Regions from separate parts of the Homo sapiens genome. Here region 2 is linked to region 1. The links come from fine-mapping of genetic effects on gene expression. A gene starts in region 1. The other region holds a variant in brackets. All regions are shown on one strand. Distances are between the middles of the regions.

Region 1 (3,060 bases):
AAATACAATGTACCAAAATGTGTAAGATGCAGCAGAAGCAGTGCTAACAGAGAATTTTATAGCTATAAATATGTGCATTATAAAAGGAAGAAAGTGGCTAGGCATGGTGGGTCATGCCTGCAATCCCAGCACTTTGACAGGCTGAGGGAGGAGAACTTCTGGAGGCCAGGAATTTGAGACCAGCCTGGGCAACAAAGCAAGACCCCATCTCCACAACTTAAGAAAAAAAAAAAAAGAAGTAGAAGAAAGTTTGCAAATCAACAACCTAACTTTATACCTCAGGAAACTAGGAGAGAAAAAAAACTACACCCAAAGCTAGCAGAAGGAGGAAAATCCTAAAGATTAGATTAAATCAGAGATAAATGAAATATAGAATATAAAAACAATAGAAAAAAATCAACAAAACTAAGAGGTGGTTTTTGAAAACACCAACAAAATTAACAAATGCTTAGCTAGATTAACTAAGGAAAAAAGATTCAACTAATAAATCAGAAATAAAAAAGAGAACATTAGAACCCATGCCATAGAAATCAAAAGGATTATAAGAAAATACCATCAACAGTTAATTATATGTCAACAAATTGGATAATTTAGAAGTGCATAAATTTCTAGAAATATACAACCTAATAAGAGTGAATCATGAAGAAGTAGAAAAAACGAACAGACTTATAACTACGAAGGAGATTAAACTGGTTCAAAAACCTCCAAACAAACAACAGCCCAGAACCGGATGACTACCAAACATTTAAGGAAGAATTAGAACCAATGTTTCTCAAAGTCATTTACAAAAATGAATATAAAAAACACTTCAAAGCTCATTATATGAGGCCAGTATTACCCTGATTTCAAAGTCAAACAAAGACATTACATGAAAAGAAAACTACAGACCAATATTTGTGATGATCAGGTTGGCTTTATTCCTGGAATGCAAGAATGATAGAACATGTGGCAGGGTGTGCTGGCTCATGCCTGTAATCCCAGCACTTTGGGAGGCTGAGACAGGAGAATCCCTTGAACCCAGGAGGCAAATGTTGCAGTGAGCTGAGGTCATGCCACTGCACTCCAGCCAGAATGACAGAATGAGATTTCATCTCAAAAAAAAAGAATAATACAACATGCAAAAATCAATGTAATACACTATAGTAATAGAATAAAGGACAAAACAGCATGATCATTTATATTGATGTAGAAAAAATGTTTAACAAAATTTAACACCTTTTATCACGAAAACACTCAGCAAACTAGGAATAGAAGGAAAATAACATAATAAAGGCCATATATGAAAAATCCACAGGTAAACTTACACTCAATGGTAAAAGATTCAAACTTTTCTTCTGGATTAGGAACAAGACAAGTATACTCTGTCTCTTCGCTTCTATTCAATATAGTATTTGAATTTCCAAGCAGACCAATTAGGAAAAAAAAATTAAGCAAGAAAAGACATCCAAAGAATAAAAGAAAAAAGTAAAATTATCTCTGCTCACAGATGACTTGATCCTATATGCATAAAATCCTAGACTCCTGCATAAAATCTAGAAAACTGTTAGATGCATATATGCATAAAATCCAGAAAACTGTTGGAACTATTAAACAAATTCTGGAAAGTTGCAGGATCCAAAATCGACACACAAAAATCAGTTGCCTTTCTATAAATTAACTATAAACAATCCAAAGGTAATTAAGAAAATAATTTAATTACAATACCATCAAAAATAGTAAAATACTTAGGAATAAACTTAGCCAGGGAAATAAAAGGCTTGTACACTGAAAACTACAAAACAGTACTGAAAGAAGTCACAAATAAATGTAAAGACATTGGTATTCATGGATTGGAAGATTTAATGTTAAGATCTCCAAAATATCAGATGTATTCCCCAAATCTGTACAACATTATGTATTAATTTGAAAAGTCAATAGAACCCAAAGCAGTCTACAAATTATATGTAATCCCTATCAAAATCTAAGCTGCATTTTTTGAAAAAAGAGAAAAATTTATCTAAATATTCATATATACTCTGACTAGACAATCTTGAAAACTAACTGAGTTGAAGGTCTCATGCTCCGTGATCTCAAAACATGTTACAAGACTACAGTAATTAAAACAGCATGACACTGGCTTAAAGAGAGACATATAGACCAATGGAATAGAATAAAGAACCCATTAAAAGAAAACTCCACATATATGGTCAAATAATATTTACAGCATTCCAGATCCGCTCAATGAGGGAAGAACATTCTCTTCAACAAACAGTGTTGGGAAACTTGGATATCCACACATGAAAGAGTGAAGTTGAAACTTTGTCTTATGCCATATACAAGAATTAACTCAAAATGGATTTAAAACTTAAATGGAAGATCTAAAACTATAAAACTCTTAGAATAAGGGGATATGGCAATTATTTTTTAATATGACACCAAAAGTACAGACAACAAAAGAAAAAATAGACAATTGGGACTACATCAAACTTTTTAAAACTTTTATGCATTAAAGGACATAACAATGTTAAAAAAAACTTGTGGATGGAAGAAAATATTAGTAAATTATATATCTGATAAAGAGTTAATATCCAGAATATATAAATAATTTCTACAACACAATATTTAAAAATAATATGATTTTAAAATGGCAAAAGGATTTGAATAGACATTTCTTTTAAAATTATATATGAATGGGCAAAAAACATAAGAAAAAATGCTCAGCATCCAAACTGGAAAGGAAATCATTAGAGAAATGTAAATCAAAACCACAATGTAATATCTCCTCACAAAAATTGAGTGGTTTACTATTAAGAAAAAGAAATATTAGATAGGATGCAGTTGATAGCAAACAGCTTAAAAGCAACGTGACCCCAGATACTAACTCAAAGCCACACAAAAAACAAAAAGCTCTGGCAAAGACATTTATTTATATTTTTATTTATGTATTTATTGAGGGTTTTGCTGTTTTGTTGTTGTTGTTGTTTACTGTTTTATTTTTGCTTTTTCAACTTTTATTTTAGATTCAGAGGGCACTTGTGCAAGTTTGTAACCTGGGTATATTGTGTGATGTTGAGGTTTGGG
Region 2 (2,500 bases), 80 kb after region 1:
CTGGCTAGCCATAGGTAGACAGCTGAAGCTGGATCCCTTCCTTACACCTTATACAAAAATTAATTCAAGGTGGATTAAAGACTTAAATGTTAGACCTAAAACCATCAAAACCCTAGAGGAAAACCTAGGCAATACCATTCAGGACATAAGCATGGGCAAGGACTTCATGTCTAAAACACCAAAAGCAATGGCAACAAAAGCCAAAATGGACAAATGGGATCTAATTAAACTAAAGAGCTTCTGCACAGCAAAAGAAACTACCATCAGAGTGAACAGGCAACCTACAGAATGGGAAAAAAATTTTGCAATCTACTCATCTGACAAAGGGCTAATATCCAGAATCTACAAACAACTCAAACAAATTTACAAGAAAAAAACAAACAACCCCATCAAAAAGTGGGCGAAGGATATGAACAGACACTTCTCAAAAGAAGACGTTTATGCAGCCAACAGACACATGAAAAAATGCTCATCATCACTGGCCATCAGAGAAATGCAAATCAAAACCATAATGATATACCATCTCACACCAGTTACAATGGCAATCATTAAAAAGTCAGGAAACAACAGGTGCTGGAGAGGGTGTGGAGAAATGGGAACACTTTTATACTGTTGGTGGGACTGTAAACTAGTTCAACCTTTGTGGAAGACACTGTGGCAATTCCTCAGGGATCTAGAACTAGAAATACCATTTGACCCAGCCATCCCATTACTGGGTATATACCCAAAGGATTATAAATCATGCTGCTATAAAGACACATGCACACGTATGTTTATTGCAGCACTATTCACAATAGCAAAGACTTGGAACCAACCCAAATGTCCATCAATGATAGACTGAATTAAGAAAATGTGGCACATATACACCATGGAATACTATGCAGCCATAAAAAAGGATGAATTCATGTCCTTTGTAGGGACATGGATGAAGCTGGAAATCACCCTTCTCAGCAAACTATCGCAAGGACAAAAAAACAAACACTACATGTTCTCACTCATAGGTGGGAATTGAACAATGAGAACACTTGGACACAGGAAGGGGAACATCACACACCAAGGTCTGTCATGGGGTGGGGGTAAGGGGGAGGGATAGCATTAGGAGATATAACTAATGTAAATGACGAGTTAATGGGTGCAGCACACCAACATGACACATGTATACATATGTAACAAACCTGCACGTTGTGCACATGTATCCTAGAACTTAAAGTAGAATTAAAAAAAAAAAAAGAAAATTCACTAATTAGGTGTGTGACCTTGGGTAAAGTTCAAGAGCAAAGCTACACAACTTCCCTAAGCCTCAGTTTCTTCATCATTAATTGGGGAAGTGCTCTGAGGCTCAAATGAGGTC[A/G]TGCACATAAAGCACTCGGCATGGGCAGGGCATCTGAGGGAAGCCTGAACACTTGGCATTGGGCATTGTTATTGTTCTTCCTCAGGCTCCTCTCATGTTGTTCTTTCTTTACAGCAAAGTTGGCCCGAGATGACCAAATTCACATTCTCAAGCAACACCGACGTAAAGAACTGGAAACACGGCAAAAACAATATCGGTGAGTTATGACATCAGATCGAGTGGCCACGGGGCCATGGTTTCTTCTATCTCAAGAGCATGGTATGAAATAAACCCTTTCCACAGTGTATGGCCTGTCACTGCTGGAAAGTCACCAAGGCACCAGCTCCCAGTGTGGGTGCACAATCCCCAAACTTCACCTTACCTACAACTCCAGACAAGAGATGGAGAGGAGAGTAATGAAAATAACTTTGGATCAACCATATTGGCATGTAGGAAGAATGGGCAGAAAAGCTTGAGTGTACCTTAATGTTCTCCATTGTAGGGGTTGCCTCTTACTTCTTATGTCTTCTTATAACAATTCAATTATAAAAGTGATACATGATCAGCAATAAAATTGACAACTCTTCAGCCAACTGACCAGAGGATTCAAACCATTAAAATGAGCAATAAGAGAAAATCAATACAGAAATTAAAATGAATAAAAAAGGAAAAATGAGACTCATAAAATGAGGGAAAATCAATACAGAAATTAAAATTAATAAAAAAGAATACTATGAACAATTGCATGCCAACAAACTAGTTAAATGAAATGCGCAAATTCCTAGAAAGACGCAAACTGCCAAAACTGACTCATGAAGAAATAGTTAATCTGAATAAAACAATCACAACCAAAGAGATTGAATTACTAATTCTAAAATTTCCCACAAATAGAAGCCCAGACCCAGATAGCTTCACTGGCTAATTCTATCAAACATTTAAAGAATTAATACTGATCTTGCATAAACTCTTTTAAGAAATAGAAGGAACACTTCCCAATTCATTGTCTCATACCCATATTATACCAAAACTAAAGGCATCACAAGAAAACTATAAACCAATATCCCTTAGCAATATAGATATAAACATTTTCAACGAAATACTAGCAAACCTAACCCAGAAGTATATAAAAGGCATTAAACAATATGAACATGTGGGATTTAGCCCAGGAAT

Which allele goes with the higher level. Alleles are on the strand shown, and positions count from the first base shown. SD is a standard deviation of normalised expression in the study named.
For the expression in esophagus mucosa of the gene that starts at base 1,389 in region 1, allele G in region 2 goes with a lower level than allele A (large effect, 0.95 SD a copy in GTEx).

What was found.
Region 2: its variant is fine-mapped to the expression of OR13A1 in esophagus mucosa (GTEx, PIP 0.91).

Annotation. Positions count from the first base shown.
Region 1 is chr10:45,314,220-45,317,279 of GRCh38, forward strand. OR13A1 (olfactory receptor family 13 subfamily A member 1) reads right to left here and starts at 1,389. Exons shown (of 4, transcript NM_001004297.3): 1 at 1,305-1,389.
Region 2 is chr10:45,394,390-45,396,889 of GRCh38, forward strand. It overlaps ALOX5 (arachidonate 5-lipoxygenase), which reads left to right. Exons shown (of 14, transcript NM_000698.5): 3 at 1,466-1,547. Among named protein-coding and RNA genes, the nearest start is that of ALOX5, 21 kb to the left of the region's middle. The variant A/G (reference allele first, on the strand shown) is at 1,352.